Linked DNA regions of Homo sapiens: all the other regions are linked to region 3. Evidence: fine-mapped expression QTL. A gene starts in region 3. Each other region holds a variant in brackets. All regions are shown on one strand. Distances are between the middles of the regions.

Region 1 (7,799 bases), 700 kb after region 3:
CAGAGGCAAAGCCAGAAATAGAACCCTGGTGTCCTGGCCTTGCCGGCGCCCACATCGCGTCAGGTCGATTCCCTCTCAATTAGCTCTGAAGCCGACACCCGCAGTGACTAAAAGCTGAGCTCACTGGCAGCCAGCCTGGGTGTTGCCGGTTGTGGCGGCCTGGGGTGGGGCTGCAGCGCACCTGGGGCCACCCATCCCAGGGCTCCTGTGCCTTTGCACAGGCAGGTTCCCCTGCCCTGAATGACCTTCCCTGTTCCGACCTGGTCTCGTGTCCTAATTTTGTGCTTAGACTTCACTTACTACTGTATGACAGGCCCCGTGCTGAGTGCTGGGGACTCTGTGGTGAACAAGATAGGGTGCTCACAGTCAAGCTGGTGGAAAAAGCAATGGATATCCAGTTGGTCAGGGCCATCTGGGAGCCCAGCACCTGCTGTGTACCAGGCCCTGTGTATCCCCCTACACTGGGTGGTCTCAGCCTGGTTATGCACACATGAAGTGGCCCTCAGTGAGGAGCAGGCGCCCACCAAGTGTGTGTGGAGTGAGAATGGAGACCAACACTTCAAGAAACTGGGCTCCCACCATCTTCCTCCCAGAGTACACGTGGGTGGCACAGAGAAGGTTACTCTCAGAAGCACTGCTGGTCACTGTGGCTCCATGTCATAGTTTTTTCATCTGTGCCTTGGATGGACACAGCAGTTGACACCCCAGGCCTCAGGGGCTCAGGCTGGGCACTCCCTGCCCTGCCCTGCCCTGGGTCCTGCTGTAGTGGGGAGGTGCCGGTTCCTGCCTGGGTAGGGCTGGACCCTCCAAGCTAGAGGTGCTGGCATAAGGGGCCACACTGCCCAGGGTAGATAAAGGAACAAAGGCAGGAACTGGGCCAGGCTTGGGTTTGCTGCCCGCCCATCCGCCTGGGCACCCCAGCCAGGTCTAGAGCCAGAAGGGTGTGAGGGTCAAGCAGCCCAGGGTTCCCTCAGATTAGGGGGGCTCCTATGGCCCAGCTTCTGGGCTTCAGCAGCACAGCCAAAATCAGGCAGAAGTGAGGGTCAAATGGAGATTTCCAGGAGCAGGTGAGGTGTTTGTTCATTCCTTGCTCTTGAGAGAGTGGAGCCTGGGCTGGAAGCCTGGACAGACCCTCCTTCCTTCACCCATCCATGCCTGGGCCTGGAGTCCCCTACACTGCAGAATCACTGCCAAATCTCAGAGAAAAAGCTCTTCCTTCCCCCACCTTGAGATGACCCAGGCTCTGGGGCACCACCTCCCTCCGTGGCAGCAGCAGGGAGGTGTGAGGGCCCTGCCAGGCCCTTTGTTCAGCCTGGGGAGTGTTTACTTTTTCCCAGGAAGCTACCCCACGACACACTGCTGCTGCCTGGGCTGGGTTTGGCCAGGGATTGGGGCCAAGAGATGTTTGGTGGGGTAGAAGGACCCTGTGATGACATGAGACAGTTGTGCTGCTAGGGAAGCTGAGGCAGAAGTAGGGAGAGGGAGCAGAAGGTCACCCTGCCAGGGGAGGTCAGGAAAGATGAACATAATCGAAATAGTAGTAGGAGCCCATGAGGATAACCAAGCAATGGTCCCTCCAAGACCTAAAGAGGGTCTGCCTAGGTTTCCTGTGAGGAAGGAGGCTTACGGGGGCTGAGCGGCTTCCCAGGTCACTCAGGAGCAGGACTGAGATGGAGCCTGCATCCGCCTGATGCCTGAGGCTGTCCCAGGACTGAGAGTGGAGGGCAGGGATGGTGGTGGTGCTGGAGGCACAGACCCTTCACATGAGCTAGGAACAAGGAAGATTCCAGCATTCTGCAGTGCTGGTTTAGGCTTCCTAGCCTCGTTTCCCAAAGAAAGGGCTGGGGTCGCACTGGGCAGGCTCCCCATGCCCTCTGTCTGCCGAAGCAACGGAATTGGGGTTTGCTTATTTCCAGGCTATAAATCCGGCCCTCCATCACTCTGGCCCTTCCACTGAGCAGGGTCCCTAGGAAGGCCTCTCATGTCAGAGATGGGAACATCAGGGCCTAAGAGAGGAAAGGGCTCCTGTTCCAGAGCAGCCTGGAGTTTGAGCCCTCCAGGCCAATAGCCCAGAACAGTGCCACCGCTCACATCATTTGCATGTGGCATCAGAGGACCAAGGTTGCCAGGTTTGGAGATGATGAGGTTAGAGGTTAGGAAGGGTCACAGCCCGTTGACTTCCCCTCAGGAGTTGATGTGAGTTGAGGTGCCTCTAGCAAGCCTTGATGGGGCCTTAGCCCTCAGGCCTGGTGCAGGAGTAGGGGTGGGGCTGGAGAGCTAGAGGACATGCTCTTGCCCCCCAGGGGCTCCTTGGCCAGCCAGAGCAAGGCATGGGGCTTTGGTGGGGGAGGAGGGGGAGGAGGCCCAGGAGCTTTGAGGCCAGTGTGGCACCAGGGAGCTGGGCAAGGGTCAGGTGGCTCTGGCAGCTACAGTGGGGGTTGGAGCTCACAAGCCAGGGAGGGTAGGTGTTCCAGGATACGCCAGGATGAGGGAGGAAGGAAGACCCAAAGCATGAACTTGAGCCCAGATCCCTTGAGGCCAGATCTGGAGTTTCAGTTTTCTGGAAATGGGAGCTGCCTTACTCCTGAGAGACTTGGAAGTGGCCGCTTTGGAGTTGGGAGGTCCTGGAAGCTGCACATCCCCCAACTGGCTAGGAATTGGTCTTTGGAGAGAATGGAGACAGGGTCCTTGTGCTTGCTGGAGAACCTGCCTGACGCCCAGCCTGGGTCAGCCAGGCCAGGGGCTGGGGCTTTCAGCTGTGGCCTTCCAGGTCAAGTGGAGCTTCAGATGGGACCTCCACTGTCTGGGCCTCCGCAGCACAGGCCTTGTCTCTGGTTCCCTGGCATGATGCCCGCCCCTCCTTCCCTGGCTCCAGCTTCCCTTGGCACTAAGTGAGGAGCTGGTGCATGCTCAAGGAGTAAATCATGTTCCTTGGCAGCCCCCACTGCTTCGTAATCGTAAAGAATTTAAAGAGAAACCGCCAAGATAAAAATCTCACCAGCCCATAAAGGCATCTTTCACCCTGCAGCTTGGGAGACAGTGAGCCTCAGAGTGGGCTCTTGGCTGTCTGCACCTGTGTGTATGCACCTCCGGCCCCTTGACTCCTCCAGAGGTGGTAATAGCTCAGAAGGTGGCTTTAGGGCCATGGGTACCTGGTCCTTGACTCCTGGGAGACCTCCATCTCCTCACTCAGGAGAGTGGGGTGCTTAAATTTGGTGTAATGCAGAAGTGGTGATGGTGGTGGCTGAGCTAGCTGGTCCCAAAGGCAAAACCCAGTTCTACCAGTGTTAGCTGTGTGAGTTCAGCCAAGTGGCTTAGCCTCTCTGAGCCCTGGTTTCTCCTGTGTAAGGTGGGAATGGCAGTGGCCCTGTGGAAGCAGCATCATGAGGGCTCAGACTGTCTTGCTTGCATCCTGGCCATGGGTGGATCTTGCTTGGTGAACATCATTCTGTGTTCCCACTGCCTTTTCTGGAAAATGGGAGTAAGAACAATACTGGCCTCGTTGTGTTGTCAGGAGGATTAACTGTGTGAGTATGGTCACTGTGGAAGAAATCTCAGTCACCAGGAGCGATCCTGAGGCTGGTGTGCAGGTGAGGGCAGGTCCAGGGGCATGCCCCAAGGAGTCCCAGACTGCCTCACCCCTTCCTCCAGAATTCTAACTTTTGGTAAGGGAGATGGTATTTGGAAAGGACTCCAGGAAGGACCCTGAGTCCTGTGGGGTGGGTGGAGTAGGGTCAGGAGGAGGAAAATTCCTACCATGGGTATCTGGGCAGGCTTCATGGAGGAGGCTGCATCTTGAGCAGGGGAGGGGAGGTTGTAGGGGAGGGAAGAGCTGGAGCACAGGGAGGGTGCATGTGGTGCAGCACCTGGGGAAGAGGACAGATGCTAGATGCAGTCTTGCTTTTGGGACAAGGATGTAGAGTTCTACTTTCT[G/A]TTTCTGGTTTTTAAGCTCTTTTTCCTCATGGCAGAGGTACTAAATATGTATTATGGAAAAATTCCAGTGATACGGATGCATTTGGCGGGAGTGATGCCTTGGAAGTAGCTCCCTAGAGACTGGCTCCAAGGCCTGGTTGGGACGCACAGTTGGCTGCAATAACTCCTTCTGTGAATGCTGCTCCAGCTCCTGCCGTGTGTCCTAGGGGTGACCAGACCTGGGCTGCTCACTCAGGCATCTGCAGGGCTGGGCAGAAAGCATGTTTGCCTGGCTTGGCCTGGTGCTATCCTGGGAATCTGAGCCCCGCCTCAAGAAGCCCTGGGAGCTTTGGAGAAGCAGAGAGGATTCCTGCTGCATTTTTCTTAGAAATAGCAAGAGGGCCTTTGCCAGAGGCCTGGATGCCAGAAGGCTATGGTCTGAATCCAAAGCCTAGCTCACGTGGGTGCCAGAGCTTGGCAGGCCTACAGCCCCCCACCCAGCCTGCTGGGCAGCCCCAGGGAGAGGGTGGAGGCCTCCTGGGCTCCAGTCCCTGACCACTGGTCCTGACCCAGCAACGAATGGGGTCTGGGCAGTGGCTGCTGGCCTAGGATTGGGGGGCTAGCCTGTTGGGGAGGGAGTGGGGCTCATCGGGCTGACGGGCTGGGCTGACTTCTGGCACTCTCACTGGGCCGAGGGGAGCACTGGCTATCTGGTGCATCTCTGCAGGGCAAAGACAGACCCAAAGCAACCGGCCCCTCCAGGGATCAGGAAGCCTCAGCTCCGGATCCCCCTTCCCCCACTCTTCTTCCTTCCTTCCTCCCCCTACTCCCCCTTGCCTCCACCCCTCCCTTTGCCACCCCTCTTGGCTTCCTACCCGGACATGCTCTTTCCTCGGACGTCTCTGTACCCAGCCAAGAGCCTTGTTCCTTCCCACTTGGGGCTCGGTGCTGATGCCCTCATTTCCCCCGGCCAGAGTCCACTGCCTCGTGTGTCTGCTGTTCAGCCAGCACGGTTGCCTTCTAAGGGTCATACACTACAATTGGCAGAGCGGCTAGAATTTGGGAGCCCTTTGGGCTCCTACAGCTCCAAGGCTGAGTGGCTAGCACTCCAGGGGGCCTCTCCCAGGGCTGCCTGTATTGCCATTTTTATCAGCGCCTTCCTGGCTGGGCCTGGGGCCTGTGCGGAGTGCTCACTGCCTGCCCTTGACTGGCTACCTGCTGAGTCCTGCTGAGGTCCTAACCCAGCCTCACTGCATCCTCCAAGGCTGACCCCAAGCATGCACCTGTCTGCCCTGTGCCTCGGTTTCTCCATCAGAATGTTGGGGAGGGGCTAAGACTGTCTGGAACATCCCGGGAATCTCTGGGTGGGTGTTGTGAAGGGGCTGCAGGGACCGCAGGAATCCGAGGAAGGCCGCAGAGATGGGGGCTGGGCCCAGGGGAGGGGGAGGGTTTTGACACCCACCAGCCTGTTGGTCCCATCTTGGCCTGTCTGTCTGGGTGATTTATCAGAGTAAATGAGCCATGGAGAGTTTGTTGTCTTTTGCAGTCATGGGGAGGAGGAGGTGGTGGAGGAAGGAGTGAGGGGTTTCCGGGCCAGGTCTGGAATGTGGGAGGAGGAGGTGGGTCCCCCGGGGGCCTCTGAAACTGGAGGCACTCACTGAATGGCCTTTTCACTCTCCCCACCTGAGAAATGAATCAGTGCAGCCCTCCCCTTCAGAACAATCCCCTCTTTCCATCCCCTTCATACTTCTTGGGGCACATTCCTGTGTGATCTGCTTGTCTGGTCATCTTCTCCCACCCCCTGCTCAGGACCAGGTCTCTTGACCACAGTGTCCTTCCAAAGCTGAGCCGGAGCCCTGACTTGCCCAGCTGGTGAATGCCCAAATGTGTTCTCACAGGCAACCATGCACACTGTTAAGTTCCAAGTGGGACGTCTAGGCCTCTGGAACTACCAGCCCAGGCCTAGGATGGTCAGGTGCATGGACCATGGGGAAGGCAGGGGTCAGTGGAGGTGCCGAGGCCGGAGAGACCCCATCTGCTGGGACAGAAGGTCCGAAGTCATTGGGTGTCCTTCGGGGATGAGGCATGGATCCCCTGGTTCCCGGCTGGCGAGTCAGGGAGTGATCCTGCTGCTCCGTCACTTCTGGCTTTTCCTGGTTTGAGGCTGAGCTGTGCCCTCAGCCTATCCTGTCCTGGGCGGAGTAGGTGAGCACTGGGGCGGAACGGGCGTGGGAACAGCATGCCTGGACCTGCTGGCCCCAGCCCCCTGCCCCCTGCCCCCAGCCTTTAGTCACTGAAATGGGAGGGAAGTGTACAGTGGCGTTTTGGCCCAGCTGGGCTCTTTACCCCTGTACGGTGTTTACTGAACAGCTGGGATGTTTACAGTAGCCCTTGCAAAGGGGCCCCTCGTTGCAGGGGATTTCCCATCTTGAGGGTCCCACTGGGGCTCTTCTGACCTCACCAATTCCCTGCACCCCTGGGATAGATGTGTCAGGGATACAGAGACCATAACCATCTCCACCTTACCAGAGCCAGTGGTGCCTGTCCCCTTGGCCTCTGGCCTTCGGTTCCTCTGCTCTGGAGGAGCCAACATTTCCCACCACATTTCCTAGAGTGGCAGCTCTAGGTGGTGAAATACGGTAACTGGGTCCCCAGTTCAGACATTTAAATTAAATTCAATCAGAGCGGTTATTGAATAAAAACACGCGGAGTCATTTACATGTTAATTATGTTGAATGGACTACTAGACCATAATTAGTTGCTAATTGGGTGAGAGTGGCTGTAATTGGTTTTGTTGGCACCAACCTGGCTCACCTACCTGGGGGGAAGCGGGGGTTGGTGTGGATGGCTCCTAGGGAGGCCCTCTGGGTCTCCAATCTGGAAGGCCTGGCTAGAGATGCTATGCGGGGGCAGATCTCCAGGGGCTTAGGGTCAGAGGAACCTGGAACCTCTCCCCAGGGAGGGTGCAGCTGGGGTCTGGCTTCTAGGGTTCCCATCCAGAGCATAGGGGGAAAAGGGGGAACTGGAGGAGCTACCCCAGATCAGCAGTGATAGTCTCCCCTGCCCAGCCCCATGTGGGACCTGGGCTTGAACAAATGGTAAGTGCCCAAGAGTGGGTCTGTGGGAGCCCAAGGCAGGCGTCACTCAGGTGTGTCTCTGCACATACTGGGCCCTGGGTTGGCCTGATCAGGGTGGCGTTGGGGTGTAAGTGGGTGTGCCAAGCAGGAGGAAGGTACGTACAAAGGCATCTGGGCCTCCCTGCCCCCCCGCTTAGCTTGGCTGGGGTTCCCGGGGTTGTAGGTCTGTGGCCATGGGCTGAGGCCTTCCGGCTGGCCGCTCATTAAAAGAGGATTAGGCTGAGAGCCAGGGGGCCAGCCCAGTCCCCAGGCCTTCCTCTGGGGCTCCTCACAGCTTTGGGGGAGTGATAAAAGGGCCGGGGCCACCCCTTCCTGGATCCTGTGGGGGTATCCGGTAGGGACCACCTGGGCCCTGCCATGCCTCTTGCCGCCACTGCTACTATAGCCTTGGCTACCTCAGTTTCCCTCCTCAGAAGGTCAGGAGGTCTGTCTTTCCGGTGGGTGAAACACTGACAAAGACCCAGGCTGGTGCCTCCCCTTGTCCCCCAGTCCCATCTCTCTTCAGCTCAGGGATTAGGGCTGCACTGGCTCACTAGAGGTCAGAGGTCTGAGCTAGGCTGCAGGGATCTGTCTATCATCCCCAGTCCCCATCACTGCTGGGGGAGGTGACGCTGTCAGTCAGGGCCTGCTGCTTTGTGGGGCTATAACCAAGGGGGCGGGCTGCCCACCTCTGCTCCAAGACTCCTCTTTTTGCGGCAGCCCACACCTCACTGCACGCAGACCTGATGTCCTGGAGACCAGCAGCAAGGG
Region 2 (7,799 bases), 100 kb before region 3:
GTTTTCTGAAAGAAAAATGTAGAGAATTTGGGGATACATACAATTCTATCTTGAAGACTTTCCAAGAACCTCAGTGAAATTGCAGAGACACTTTCTTTGTGGCTTCAGAAAAATGCTAGACATTTAATGAAACTCACTAGTTTCAAAACCATAAAAAGGAAATATAATCCCTTTCCTTTAAACAGAGAACCAACAGCTTTTTCTCAGTCCAGCCAAGAGTGGTGCTGAGCATCTCTGTAGGTGGGGCCCGAGTAAGGGCTCTGGAGGAGCAAAAGATCCACAACACAAGGTAGTTTCACGGGGGGCACTTCCTGCCCCACAAAGGCAGGCACTTTACAGGACATCTGTCACTGCTGGTAGATGATTCTGACATAGCTTACAGAAGGGGTCCCCATTCTAGGGCAGCAGCTGACCCAGGGTCCACATGTTCTTTTTCTAACTTGTTCATCAACTCTCAGCATAACTTCTACCCTATGGGGTTTACTGGTATTTCAAATGGCTGAAGAGTGACTTTTGGCCGGGAGCGGTGGCTCATGCCTGTAATCCCAGCACTTTGGGAGGCCAAGGTGGGCGGATCATGAGGTCAGGAGATCGAGACCATCCTGGCTAACACAGTGAAACCCCGTCTCTACTAAAAATACAAAAAAAATTAGCCGGGTGTAGTGGTGGGCACCTGTAGTCCCAGCTATTCAGGAGGCTGAGGCAGGAGAATGGTGTGAACCCGGGAGGCAGAGCTTGCCATGAGCTGAGATCGCGCCACTGCACTCCTGGGCGACAGAGCAAGACTCCGTCTCAAATAAAAAAAAGTGACTTTTGAAAATAACCAAAAGAGGCTGGGCGTGGTGACTCATACTTGTAATTCCAGCACTTTTGAGAGGCTAAGGCAAGTAGACAGCTTGGGCCTAGGAGCTCAAGAACAGCCTATGCAACATGGCTAAACCCCATCTCCAGACAGCGTGGTGGCTCGTGCCTGTAATCCCAGCACTTTGGGAGGCTTAGGTGGGTGGATCACCAGAGGTCAGGAGTTCGAGACCAGCCTGGCCAACATGGCGAAACCTCATCTCTACTAAAATTACTAAAATTAGCCGGGCGCAGTGGTGTGCACCTATAGTCCCAGCTACTTGGGAGGCTGAGGCAGAAGAAACACTTGAACCCAGGAGGTGGAGGTTGTGATGAGTCGAGATCGCAATACTACACTCACTCCAGCCTGGGCAACAGAGTGAGACTCTGTATCAAAAAAGTCAAAAACCCCATCTCCACAAAAACATACAAAAACTTAGCAGTTTACAGTGGTACATGTGCCTGCATTCCCACCTACTTGAGAGGCTGAGGTGGGAGGATCACTGGAGTCCAGGATTCAAGGTAGCAGTGAGCTATGATCACGCTACTACTGCACTCCAGCCAGGGTGACAAAGTGAGACTTCATCTCTTAAAAACAAATAAATAGGCTGGGCGCAGTGGCTCACGTCTATAATCCCAAAACTTTGAGAGGCTGAGGCAGGTGGATCGCGTTAGGTCAGGAGTTCGAGACCAGTCTGGCCAACATGGTGAAACCCCATCTCTATTAAAAATACAAAAAGATTGCCAGGCGCAGTGGTTCATGCCTATAATCCCAGCACTGTGAAGGCCGGGGCGGGTGGATCACCTCAGGTCGGGAGTTGGGAGACCAGCATAACCAACATGGAGAAACCCCGTCTCTACTAAAAATACAAAATTAGCTGGGCGTGGTGGCACATGCCTGCAATCCCAGCTACTTGAGAGGCTGAGGCTGGAGAATCGCTTGAACCCGGGAGGCGGAAGTTGCAGTGAGCCGAGATCGTGCCATTGCACTCCAGCCTGGGCAACAAGAGCGAAACTCCGTCTCAAAAACAACAAAACAAAACAAAAAAATTAACTGGGCATGGTGGTGCACACCTGTAATCCCAGCTACTAGGGAGGCTGAGGCAGGGAAATTCCTTGAACCAGGGAGGTGGAGGTTGCAGTGAGCCAAGATCGTGCCACTGCCCTCCAGCCTGGGCGACAGAGCGAGACTCCGTCTCAAAATAAATAAATAAATAAATAAATAAAAATAAATAGACCAGGTGCAGTGGCTCATCAGGCCTGTAATCTCAGCACTTTGGGAGGCCGAGGCAGGTGGATCAGGAGTTTGAGACCAGTCTGGCCAACATGTTGAAACCCTGTCTCTACTAATAATACAAAAATTAGTCAGGCATGGTGGTGCATGCCTGTAATCCCAGCTACTTGGGAGGCTGAGGCAGAAGAAGTGCTTGAACCCGGGAGGCGGAGTGCAGTGAGCTGAGATCGCACCATTGCACTCCAGCCTGCGTGACAAGAGCAAAAGTCTGTCTCAAAAAAACAAAAATAAAAATAAATAAAACAAAACAGCATACAACCATGACCCACCTCTACAAATGTTATTTGTAATATTTACTGTTACTGGGTTTACTGTTGTTATTTTCTGATTTACTTTTTTGGGGGCATTGAGGGGAGCCTATTCTGTCTTCCCTCATCTAGAACAGAAGTTTTTTTTTTTTTTTTTTAGATGGACTCTTGCTCTGTCGCCCAGGCTGGAGCGCAGTGGCGCAATCTCAGCTCACTACAACCTCTGCCTCCCGGGTTCAAGCAATTCTCCTGCCTCAGCCTCCCGAGTAGCTGGGATTACAGGCACTCGCCACCACGCCCGGATGATTTTTTTGTATTTTTAGTAGAGACAGGGATTCACCATGTTGGACAGGCTGGTCTTGAACTCCTGACCTCAGGATCCACCCACCTTGGCCTCCCAAAGTGGTGGGATTACAGGTGTGAGCCACAGTGCCTGGCCTAGAATAGATGTTCTGTTAGTAGGTGCTGTAGTTATTTCCTGAATATGTGAAATTATACCAATAGTCTACCCCCTTCCTGGAGTTTGAGGTACATAGAATTTGAATAAATTGACTGTCGCCACTTTTGGTGAATAAATTTTCAAACTTTTTTTTTTTTTTTTTTTGAGACAAGAGTCTCACTCTGTCACCTAGGCTGGAGTGCAGTGATGCGATCTCGGCTCACTGCAACCTCTGCCTCCCAGGTTCAAGCAATTCTCCTGCCTCAGCCTCCTGAGTAGCTGGGATTACAGGTACATGCCACCATACTTGGCTAAGTTTTGTATTTTTAGTAGCGACAGGATTTCACCATGTTGGCCAGGCTGGTCTCGAACTCCTGACCTCAGGTGATCCGCCTACCTCAGCCTCCCGAAGTGCTGGGATTACAGGCGTGAGCCACCATGCCCGGCCTAAAAAATATAAAAATTAACCAAGCGCAGCAGTGTGTGCCTGTAGTACCAACTACTGGGTGGGGACTGAGATGGGAGGATTGTTTGAGCCCAGGAGGTCGAGGCAGCAGTAAACTGAATCTGCAACTGCACTCAAGACTGGGCAAGAAAGCGAGACCCTGTCTCAAAAAGAAAAAAGTGAGACTGAAGAGACAAAATGTTTTGCTCTGGAGGCAGTTTTTTCCCTCAAGAATTATACACTAGATAACGAGGGCAAAGGCACACAGTCCTTCTCATTCCAATAGGATCTAGGTGAAGTTATTTATGTGTGTATCTGATAGGAGAGTGTCAACTAGCTCAAATTTTCTCTGTGGCCTAAAGCTCTGCCCAGCCTCCAGGGCCTTCCAGCAGCTTCACAAAAGGAAGTCATATTAGTTTGAAAACCAAAACTAGGCTGGGTGTGGTGGCTCACACCTGTAATCCCAGCACTTTGGGAGGCCAAGGTGAGTGGATCACCAGAGGTCAGAAGTTTGAGAGAAGCCTGGCCAACACGGAGAAACCCGGTCTCTACTAAAAATACAAAAATCACCCAGGCGT[G/A]GGGGCGTATGCCTGTAGTCCAAGCTACTTGGGAGGCTGAGACAGGAGATTTGCTTGAACCTGGAAGGCGGAGGTTGCAGTGAGCCAAGATTGTGCCACTCAACTCCAGCCTGGGCAACAGAGCGAGACCCCGCCTCTAAATCAATCAATCAATCATAACTGCTGAAAATGATCTAAGTGAACCAACGGCATGGAATACGTGCTCTTTCTCTGTCCTGGGACATACTGCACAGAGGACTCAATCTTAGCTCAGCTCCTTGGGCCAGCATGACCTTAAACAAGTGGCTCAATATCTTGGAGCAACCCCAGTTATCATCATTAAGGTAGGGACAACCATAACAACACAATCACTCTAACACTAACTATCCAGGCAACCCGAGGCCACAAGCAGACCCTCAAAGGCTGTTTGTGGTAATGACGACAACATCCTTGACCCACCTGCTGCCCTGTCATGACAGGGAGGGCTGCAGCACAAGTTTATTAATAGATACCTCATCATCTTCAGCACAAACCTAAAGCAAGTTTTTTCAAGCCTGGTTTCACAGAATGTCAGGTTAGCATTCTTCAGTCTTTTTCTAAAGAATACTGACTTCTGGGCCAGGCGCAGTGGCTCACGCCTGTAATCCCAGCACTTTGGGAGGCCGAGGCAGGCGGATCACGAGGTCAGGAGATCAAGATCATCCTGGCTAACGTGGTGAAATCCCATCTCTACTAAAAAATACAAAAAATTAGCCGGGCGTGGTGGTGGCCACCTGTAGTCCCAGCTACTTGGGTGGCTGAGGCAGGAGAATGGCATCAACCCAGGAGGCAGAGCTTGCAGTGAGCTGAGATCAAGCTGCTGCAATCCAGCCTGGGAGACAGAGCAAGACTCCCTCTCAAAAAAAAAAAAAAAAAAAAAAAAGAATACTGACTTACTGACTTCTGAATTATGTGGCTGTGTTTAGGCTAATGAAATGATCACATTCAAGCTTCTATCAGCTAAGACACTTCAGAAAAAGGCTAAGACAGGGCAACCAAAAAAAAGAAAGTCTTTCCCCAAAAGAGATGGCTTTACATTTGGAACTCATCTAGTTTGCTCATCTTTTTTTTTGGGAGATGGAGTCTGCAGTACAGTGGCATGATCTTGGCTCACTGCAACTTCTGCTTCCCAGGCTCAAGTGATTCTCCTGCCTCAGCCCCTGGAATAGCTGGGATTACAAGTGCACGCCACCACACCCAGCTAATTTTTGTATTTTAGTAGAGACAAGGGGTTCACCATGTTGCCTAGGCTGGTCTCAAACTCCTGACCTCAGGTGATCTGCCAGCCTCGGCCTCCCAAAGTGCTAGGATTACAGGTGTCAGCCGCCGCACCAGCCTTAGTTTACTCATCTTTGTATCTGGAATTCATCTAGTTTACAAGGCAGTTAGATTTTTAAATAACATTTAATATTATTTAGTAATAATAATAATAATTATTATTTTTGAGATAGAGTCTTGCTCTGTTGCTCAGTCTGGAATGCAGTGCCATAATCTCGGCTCACTGCAATCTCCACCTACCAGGTTCAAACGATTCTCCTGCCTCAGCCTCCCAAGTACCTGGGACTACAGGCGTGCACCACCATGCCTGGCTAATTTTTTTGTACTTTTAGTAAAGACGGGGTTTCACCATGTTGGCCAGGCTGGTCTTGAACTCCTGACCCTCAGGTGATCCACCCGTCTGGACCTCCCAAAGCGCAGGGATTATAGGTGTCAGGCACCGTGCCCTGCCTAGGTGGATACATTTTAAATACAGTACCCATGGGAGACCTAGGCTGAAAGGGACCCAAGGCCCACGCTCTACAATCCCAAACTCCAGGACTCCGGCCACTGACGATGATTGCTTCTCTGAAGTTCATGTCTGCTTTTCAGCCACTTGATGCCCAGAAACCAGATGCCAACTAGCTACACAGGCAGTGACAAATATCAGGGTGCAGGGCCACTCACCTAAACTATCAGGGCTGTCGATGGAAAAACACATCAGTATAACATCGGTATCTGGGTAGGAGAGGGGCCTCAGGCGATCATAATCTTCCTGCCCAGCTGTGTCCCACAAAGCCAACTCTACCTGTAATGGGAAAAACAACCACAAGAGTGCAAGGTTAATCCCCCCACCCACTTTTAGAAAAAGTGACACTTACCATAGTACATTGAAATGGCAGACCATTGAAATGGCAGACGGTCTAAAACAGTAAAACACAGGAGTATTTACATTTTTTCTTTTTTCTTTTTTTTTTTTTTTTTTGAGATGTAGTCTTGCTCTGTCGCCCAGGCTAGAGTGCAGTGGCGCGATCTCTGCTCCCTGCAAGCTCCGTCTCCCGGGTTCACACCATTCTCCTGCCTTGGCCTCCCAAGTAGCTGGGACTACAGGTGCCCGCCATCACACCCGGCTAATTTTTTGTATTTTTAGTAGAGACGGGGTTTCACTGTGTTAGCCAGGATGGTCTGGATCTCCTGACCTCATGATCCGTCCGCCTCGGCCTCCCAAAGTGTTGGGATTGCAGGCGTGACCCACCGCGCCTGGCCTTTTTTTTTTTTTTTTTTTTTTTTTTTTTTTTTGTTGAGACGGAGTCTTACTCTGTTGCTCAGACTGGAGTTCAGTGGCAAGATCTTGGCTCACTGCAAGCTCTGCCCCCGGGTTCATGCCATTCTCCTGCCTCAGCCTCCTGAGCAGCTGGGACTACAGGCGCCCGCCACCACGCTTGGCTAATTTTTCGTACTTTTAGTAGAGACGGGGTTTCACCATGTTAGCCAGGATGGTCTTGATCTCCTGACCTCGTGATCCGCCTGCCTCGGCCTCCCAAAGTGCTGGGATTACAGGCATGAGCCACCACACCCGGCCGAGTATTCACTTTTATGAGCATCAAGCTCAAATGAGAGTATATTTAAATTATTTTAGGTTGAAATTTCTCAAAATTGAAAATCTGAGAACCCACCTCTACAAAAACACCTTAAAAATTAGCTGAGTGTGGCCAGGCGCGGTGGCTCATGCCTGTAATCCTAGCACTTTGGGAGGCTGAGGCGGGCTGACTGCCTGAGCTCAGGAGTTCGAGACCAGCCTGGGCAACATGGTGAAACCCCGTCCCTACTAAAATACGAAAGAAATTAGCCAGGCACGGCAGCGTGCGCCTGTAGTCCCAGCTACTGGAGAGGCTAAGGCAGGTGAATTGCTTGAACTCGAGAGGCAAAGGTTGCAGTGAGCCAAGATCGTGCCACTGCACTCCAGCACTCCAGCATGGGCGACAAAGCGAGCCTCCATCTCTAAAAAAAAAAAAAATAAATAAAATAAAACTTAGCTGAGTGTGGGCTGGGTGCGGTGGCTCACGCCTGTAATCCCAGCACTTTGGGAGGCCAAGGCGGGCGGATCACCTGAAGTCGGAAGTTCGAGACTAGCCTGACAAATGTGGAGAAACCCCATCTCTACTGAAAATACAAAATTAGCTGGGCGTGGTGAAGCATGCCTGTAATCCCAGCTACTCAGGAGGCTGAGGCAGGAGAATCGCTTGAACCCAGGAGGCGGAGGTTGCAATGAGTGGAGGTTGCAATGAGCTGAGATTGCACCACTGCACTCCAGCCTGGCCAACAAGAGCGAAACTCCATTTAAAAAAAAAAAAAAATTAGCTGACTGTGGTGGTGCACGCCTGTAGTCCCAGCTACTTGGGAGACTGAGGTGGGAGGACTGCTTGAGCCCGGGAGGCGGAGGTTGCAGTAAGCAGAGATTGTGCCACTGCACTGCAGCCTAGGCAGTGAGACCTTGACTCAATTAGGAAAAAAACAAAAAAACAAAACAGATACTAGAACTGAACCAAGTGGCATAATTCAAAATGTCAAGTCAAAAATAACTCTGTAGCTTATAAAAGTGTTTAATTATAAATAACATTCTACTAGGAAAGAAAGCAGACAGGAGGGAAGAAATCAAATTTTAAATAACATCCTACCA
Region 3 (7,799 bases):
AGCCTCTGCTATCTGCCACTTGCTGTTAGGTGGTGGTTGCTATGTGGGGCCAAGCAAGTTGGTCTCTAGCATCAAGGGCTCATACTTCAGTGGAGGAGACAAACCTTAATCAGATAATCTTCCTGAATCCTCAGGTTGAGGGTCTATGTGGATGAAACACTGGGGGCTGAAGGCCCAAGAGAGTTGGGGACTGACAGGCCCGAAGATCCTCATTCTTTGCCTCTTGATCAGTCCTCCCCATTCCATACCACATGGGTCCTTTGAGTAGCTGCTCCTGGGAGTAACCCAGGCCTCATTTTTTTTTTTCTTTCTTTCTTTCTTTTTTTTTTTTTGAGACGGAGTCTCACTCTGTTGCCCAGGCTGGAGCGAAGTGGTGCAATCTTAGCTCACTGCAACCTCTGCCTCCTGGGTTCAAGTGATTCTCCTGCTTCAGCCTCCTGAGTAGCTGGGATTACAGGTGTGTACCACCACGCCTGGCTAATTTTCATATTTTTAGTAGAGAAGGGATTTCACCATATTGGTCAGGCTGGTCTGGAACTCCTGACCTCGTGATCCACCCACCTCAGCCTCCCAAAGTGTTGGGATTACAGGCATGAGCCACCGCGCCCAGCCTTTTTATTTTTTCTTGAGTCAGGATCTTACTCTGTCACCTGGCTGGAGTGCAGTGGCATGACTGCAGCTCACTGCAACCTCCACCTCCCAGGCTCAAGTGATCCACCTCAGCCTCCTGAGTATCTGGGACCACAGGTGGGTGCCATATGCCTTGCTAATTTTTTAATTTTTTGTAGAGATGGGGGTCTTGCTAACATGTTGCGCAGTCTGGTCTCAAACTTCTCCCATCCAAGTACTAACCAGGCCCAACCCTGCTTAGCTTCTGAGATCAGACGAGCTTGGGTGCATTCAGGGTGGTATGGCCATGGACAGCTCTTGAACTTCTGAGCTCAAACGATCCAGCTGCCTTAGTTTCCCAAAGTGCTGGGATTACAGGTATGAGCCACTGAGCCTGGCCCAGACCTCATTTTTGGTTCTGCCCTCCAACTGGTTGTGAGCACCAAACCTGGCCTGGAGTGGCCTAGGCTCTGCTGGGGTTTGGAAGGTGAGTTACTGGGGACCTTGTGCTGAACTCTAGAGTAGGCTGTGCAGTTCCCACTGAGGGTAAAGGCTTTGACTCTTAGAACTAAAGAGAGTAACAAGGCCTTAACTTTACAGCCCCTAGCCAGTCTAGGGGACCATGAAGACAGCTATTTCTGTGTCATCTTTGGTATGGACTCCAGTGGGGGCTGGTTGGGTTCTGGTGGGAGGTGGTTAGGCCTCCTAAGTGGCTTGTTCAGGTCTGGTCAGCCAAGCCTCCTGCCGTTTTTTTTTTTGAGGGGGGACAGAGTTTCCCTCTTGTTGCCCAGGCTGGAGTGCAGTGGTGTGAACTCGGCTCACTGCAACCTCCGCCTCCCTGGTTCAAGCAATTCTCCTGTCTCAGCCTCCCGAGTAGCTAGGATTACAGGCATATGCCACAACGCCCGGCTAATTTTTTTTGTATTTTTAGTAGAGACGGGGTTTCACCGTGTTAGCCAGGATTGTCTCGATCTTCTGACCTCGTGATCCACCCGCCTTGGCCTCCCGAAGTGCTGGGATTACAGGCGTGAGCCACCACGCCTGGCCTCTTTCTTTTTTTTTGAGACAGGGTCTCATTCTGTTGCCCAGGCTGGAGTGCAGTGGTGTGATCATGGCTCACTGCAGTTTTAATCTCCAAAGCTCAAGCACCTGGCTAATTTAAAAAATTTTTTTGTAGAGATGCTGTCTCACTATATAGTCCAGACTGGTCTTGAATCATGGGCTCAAGAGATCCACCCTCCTTGGCCTCCCAAAGTGCTGGAATTACAGACCTGAGATGTAAAACTATATAGTCAGACACTAAAATATGCAGCAGAACGTATGGCTGCAAAGCAGTGCACGGTGGTGGGGTAGGTGGTGCACTCTCAGAGCCAAAGGAGTGAATGAGAGAATAGAATATATTTTGCTTAGAAACCCAAATAAATAATTTTCTGCATGGTTAGCCCCCCCTTTTTTTTTTTTGGAGACAGGGTCTCCCTCTATTGCATAGGCTGGAGTGCAGTGGTGTGAACACCCGCTCACTGCAGTCTCAACCTCCTGGTCTCAAGCAATCCTCCCACCTCAGCCTCCCAGGTAGCTGGGAGCACAGGTCATGTGCCACCCCGCTTGGCCAATTTTATTTTTAATTTTTATTTTTTGAGACAGAGTCTTGTTCTGTTGCCCAGGTGGAGTTCAGTGGCATGATCTCGGCTCACTGCAACGTCTGCCTCCTGGGTTCACGTGATTCTCCTGTCTCCGCCTCCCGAGTAGCTGGGACTACAGGCGTCTGCCACCATGCCCGGCTATTTTTTGTATTTTTAGTAGAGACGGGGTTTCACGTTGTTGGTCAGGCTGGTCTCAAACTCCTGACCTCAGGTGATCCACCCGCCTTGGCCTCCCAAAGTGCTGGGATTACAGGTGTGAGCCACCGCGGCTGGTCAAAATTTTTTTTTTTTGGTACTTTTTTTGCAGAGGCGGGGTTTCGACACGTTGCCCAGGCTGGTCTTGAACTCCTGAGCTCAAGCTATCCATCCACCTGCCTCGGCCTCCCATAGTGCTGGGACTACAGGCGGGAGCACAGCACCTAGCCCCTTCCTTTTCTTGTCTCTGTGAATGAGGTTTGGAGCCGAGACACTGAAGTATAGATAATTGCAAAAAGGTATGTTTTTGGGAGATGGGGCATTCCTTTCTTATCTCTGCAACTTGCATCTCCCAGACGCTCCTGAGGAGGGAGGGAAAGCCAGGGAGCCCCAGAGCTCTCCGGGATCCAGGGAGGAAACCATGGCTGGTGGCAGCCAGTTCTGTGTTCAGAATGTGCTTGCTGTCAAGAGTGCAGGCCTGGAATTCCAGCCTGGCCACAGGCCAAGGAGGGAATGGACCCATCCTGCGCATGGTGTGGGGATGAGAAGCAGAGCCCACCACGGGTCTCATTCCCAGACCCATCCGGTAACTGTCAGTTTCAGTAACTGTGAAGTCTGGGGCTTTTGGGGTGGGGGGCTGCAGGTTAAGTCCTGGGGAGAGCTAGAGCTACCTTAGGACCCTCCCCTTGAATGTTCCAGGCAGCAACCCCCCTCTCTTATTTCTTCCCCCACCAAAAGAATGCAGGCCACTAGGAGTGAGTGACCAGCGCCTGCGAGTTAGAGCTATTTTGGGCAGGAGAGCAGGCGTCGGATTCCAGTGTTCCAGGCAGGGGGAGGGGACGAGGGTTAGGCCTGAGGCGCTTTCCGACTCCCCAGCCTGCTGTGGGCGAGGCTCTAGGAGATGAGCTAGCTTCCCGCTCCTCCTGTCCCTGGCCTCAGTCTCCCATCCGTGTAAGGGCCGGGCAGCAAGGCTTTCATCCTTTGCAATTGAGAGAACGCTTCCTGATTGTTCTCATGGCTTAGAAATACCCCTTGATTTGCATTCGAAGGAAATAAGGAGGGCTGAACGCAGTCGACGGGTGGCCAGTTGCTGGGCCAGTTCGCAGTCCTGACTGTCCCTTGATTAGTCTTAGAGGCCCAAAGGCCTGAAGTTGGGCGGGGAGCCCCTCCCCCACACTACTGGTTCTGAAGGCTCCGAGTGACCGGGACCGACCGCCGGGGTGTGTCCCGGGACGGACTTCCCTGGCCGTGGGGGCGAGGCTTCCATAATGGGGCGTGACTTTTAGGGCGGGGGAGTGGCTAGCCAATGAGCAGAGAGGTGCTGGCCGGGGCGGGGCTTGCGCGCGGGTGCGGCGCGCTGCGGAGCGGCCGACGCAGGCAGAAGCCGGCGGCGCGCGGACAGCCAGTCGGCGCCGCGCGGAGCTGGCCGCTGGATTGGCTGCAACACTCGCGTGTCAGGCGGTTGCTAGGCTCCGGCCGCGCGCCCCGCCCTTGCGCTCAGCGCCCTCTCACCGCCCGGTACGTGCTCGCGCGAAGGCTGCGGCGCGGCGCTCGCGCCTCTTAGGCTTGGCGGTGGCGGCGGCGGCAGCTTCGCGCCGAATCCCCGGGGAGCGGCGGTGGCGGCGTCCTGGGGCCAGGAGGAGCGAACACCTGCCGCGGTCCTCCCGCCGGCGCTGGGTGAGTGCACCGCCCGCCCTATCCGCTGTGCCTGGCTGCTTGGGCCCCCATCCCTGCTGCCGGCTGAGCCTTCCGCGGAACACCTGCTGCTGCTCGCTGTTCGGCCCGGGGCGGGGACACGGCCGCGGACGTCCTTGTGGGTGAGGAGGCGGTGCCGCCCGGGCGGAGCCGCCCCTTTGCTCTGGGTCCCGCAGGCAAAGGCTCGGAGCGTTCGGCTGCAAGGCCCGGGCCGCGCGCCGCGGCGATGGGCCAGGCCTTAGCTCGGCCCGCGCTCCCGGGAACGTGGAGCCTGCGCCTTGGCCGCGGTCGTGAGCCGCCTGCGGGCCGCCTCCCTGGCTTCCAATAGGGGTTGTGGCCCAGTTGGGCCGGATTCCGACTGTGGGGAGTCGAGCCCCGCTAGAGGCAGGGAAGGGCACCGCTGCCGCCACTGCTCTGTCAGAGCTGCTCAGAGCCTTGGTGGGTTCCGTCATCCTTACTTGAGCTCCTTTGGAAGCTTGTTTACTTACTACCTTTTCACTTTGTATTTGGCAGACCTGGTTCACCTGCGAGTGTATTTGGATAGTGTCTCCACAGAAAATGTCGTCTCGGCTTGGAATCTTTTTGCCATAAATTCTAAGTTAGTTTCCTACAAACTCAACTGGTAACTTAAAATGCATCCTTTAATCTCTATAACTTGAAAAGTTCTTATTTTTGTAAATCGAGTTGCTTCAGAATTAGTTTTAATGGTGACGATGAAGTTTTGACTGGTTGAGGCAAGAGCCTGGGACAGCACCTTCATAGCGCAGAGTCTAACTTAAGATTCTAGCCTGCTGCTTCCCTAAATAAGCGAGTAGAAGTGACTCCTGGCATAGAAGCCAGACTCCGTGAAGGGAAGGTGGTGTTTATAGGACATAATTCCAGATAAAGAGCTGGATGTGCTTTCAGGTGTTTTGCAAAGTCTGGTGTAGATGGGGTATTGCAGTTTTATCAGGTTCTATGCTTAGTTAAGTTCAGAGACATTATTTTGGAATGTTCCTGTTCTAAAAAAGAATTCAACCGTACTACATTTTGGAGGCATAAAAATCCATAGTTTGAGTATGGAGAAGTTTAGTTGAACTTTTGTGGGTTTTTTTTGCTGTGAACTAAGGAAGAAGAGCTCATGGCCTGTGTCCTGTATTTTGGAGAAATCAGATTTCAGTAGGGAGTTGGATCCATCATGTGAAGACCCTATGGGATATAAAAGCTTGTGCTGACATGTGCTTTTGTTAAAAGAGGCACAGTGCAAATCCTCACTGTTCTTAAAAATTGATTTTGCAAAATGCATTTATTCATTTGAACAAATATTTTGATTCACTACCTGCCAAATTCTGTGGTAGATCCTAGGGACCCATGTAAAAGAGTCTGCTTCTGCCCTTAAGGAATTCAGTTTAGGGGGCAGTGGGGACCAGGGAACCCATGATTAATAGTGTCTGCCCGCTAAGCGTGCTCACATAGTAGCCTGAGGAGAGAGGGAATTCCTGAGCTGTGGTTTTCAGGGCCAGCAGGAATTAGTGGGGGACATCAAGGCCTGGACACAGGGAACCACATGTACATGAGCACCTAAAATAGTGCTTGGGAGTCCTCCAGCTTGGCAGGTGCGAGCTCTGGGCCTGCCTTGTGCTCAGGAGTTCCAACTTTGTATGCGGGGTGCAGGAGTCTGGGGAGCCTTTTAATCAGTAGAGTGGTGTGACCCAGACCTGTGTTTAGAAAGATATTGCTGGTGGAGTGGCAGGAAGAGGGAGGGGGTCAGGACCTCTGGCAGTTAAGTCAGCTAACAGAGGAGAGGTGGGGAGGGAGAAGGAGCCATCAGAAAAGAGAGACTGAAAAGGTAGTACAGAGGGGATGTCCTGCCATGATGGGGGAGGAGCTACATTCTGGAATGCATGGGCCAGAAGACCAAGCATAACCAAGGATTTAAATTCCTTGTTGACTACCTGGTATAGTGACCTACAGAGTTGCTTGTGTCTGGTTAGTGTTGAGGATGGTGGGATTTGGAGGGACCACTTAGGGACCACTTAGACTGCCGTCGATGCATAGGAAAGGAGGCCTGGCATTTGATTATTAAAAACTTTATCGCCGGGCATGGTGGCTCCCACCTGTAATCCCAGCAGTTTGGGAGGCCGAGGCGGGCGGATCACGAGGTCAGGAGATCGAGATCATCCTGGCTAACACGGTGAAACCCCCTCTCTACTAAAAATACAAAAAATTAGCCGGGCGTGGTGGTGGGCACCTGTAGTCCCAGCTACTCAGGAGGCTGAGGCAGGAGAATGGCGTGAACCCGGGAGGCGGAGCTTGCAGTGAGTTGAGATAGAGCCACTGCACTCCAGCCTGGGCCACAGATCGAGACTCCGTCTCAAAAACAAAACAAAAAACAACTTTATCTCCAGGCAGGGCGTGGTGGCTCACGCCTGTAATCCCAGCACTTTGGGATTCTGAGGCAGGTGGATTACCTGAGGTCAGGAGTTCAGGACCAGCCTGGCCGACATGGTGAAACCCCGTCTCTACTAAAAAATACAAAAATTAGCCAGGCATGGTGGCGGGCGCCTTTAATCGCAGCTACTCGGGAGGCTGAGACAGGAGAATCGCTTGAACCCGGGAGGCGGAGGTTGCAGTGAGCTGAAAGCCTGGGTGACAAGAGCAAAACTCGGTCTCAAAAAAAATAAAAAATAAAACAAAACAACTGGCCAGGCGCGGTGGCTCACGCCCGTAATCCCAGCACTTTGGGAGGCTGAGGCGGGTGGATCACGAGGTCAGGAGATCAAGACCATCCTGGCTAACACGGTGAAACCCTGTCTCTACTAAAAATACAAAAAATTAGCCAGGTGGGGTGGCGGGCGCCTGTAGTCCCAGCTACTCATTCTCCTGGAGGCTGAGGCAGGAGAATGGCGTGAACCCGGGAGGCGGAGCTTGCAGTGAGCTGAGATAGCGCCACTGCAGTCCGGCCTGGGCGACAGAGCGAGACTCCGTCTCAAAACAAAAAAAAAACACAAAAAAAACACAAAACTTTATCTCCTACTTGAACCTGGGGTACTGCATTTCCTCTTGCGCACAGCAGGCATCTTAACCCGTGAGAGACAATGTGTGTTCATCCTTGTGGAGGCAGTTGAGAGCATATTTCATTTCTTTTCTTCCTTTTTTTTTTTTGAGACGGAGTCTTGCTCTGTCACATCACCTAGGCTGGAATAAAGTGGCGTGATCTTGGCTCACTGCAACCTCCGCCTCCCAGGTTCAAGCAATTCTCCTGCCTCAGCCTCCCGAGTAGCTGGGATCACAGGCACTTGCCACCACGCCAGGCTAATTTTTTGCATTTTTAGTAGAGATGGGGTTTCACCATGTTGGCCAGCCTAATCTTGAACTCTTGATCTCAGGTGATCCGCCCGCGTCAGCCTCCCAAAGTGTTGAGATTACAGGCGTGAGCCACTGCGCCTGGCCTTTTTTTTTTTTTCTTCTGAGACAGAGTCTCACTCTGTTATCCAGGCTGGAGTGCAGTGGTGGGATCTTGGCTCACTGCAGCCTCGACCAGCCTCCCTGGCTCAAGCAATCCTCCCACCTCAGCATCCTGAGTAGCTAGGACCACAGGCGCACGCCATCACTCCTGGCTAATATATGTATATATTTTTTGAGACCGAGTCTTGCTCTGTTGCCGAAGCTGGAGTG

The links. PIP is the estimated chance that this variant, and not a neighbour inherited with it, causes the effect. A credible set is the group of variants that fine-mapping cannot tell apart.
Region 1: its variant is the best candidate, but not a certain one, in a credible set for the expression of DAG1 in cerebellar hemisphere (GTEx, PIP 0.81).
Region 2: its variant is the best candidate, but not a certain one, in a credible set for the expression of DAG1 in blood mononuclear cells (TOPMed, PIP 0.74).

Annotation. Positions count from the first base shown.
Region 1 is chr3:50,161,379-50,169,177 of GRCh38, forward strand. All of the region lies in intron 2 of SEMA3F (semaphorin 3F), which reads left to right. Among named protein-coding and RNA genes, the nearest start is that of SEMA3F-AS1, 9.2 kb to the left of the region's middle. RefSeq lists enhancers at 5,512-6,126, 6,058-6,352 and a silencer at 6,058-6,352. The variant G/A (reference allele first, on the strand shown) is at 3,934.
Region 2 is chr3:49,362,622-49,370,420 of GRCh38, forward strand. RHOA (ras homolog family member A) reads right to left here. Exons shown (of 5, transcript NM_001664.4): 3 at 5,807-5,927; 4 at 1-5. Among named protein-coding and RNA genes, the nearest start is that of GPX1, 8.2 kb to the left of the region's middle. The variant G/A (reference allele first, on the strand shown) is at 3,845.
Region 3 is chr3:49,466,310-49,474,108 of GRCh38, forward strand. DAG1 (dystroglycan 1) reads left to right here and starts at 3,958. Exons shown (of 3, transcript NM_004393.6): 1 at 3,958-4,124. It also overlaps the pseudogene RNA5SP130. RefSeq lists a silencer at 3,637-4,376.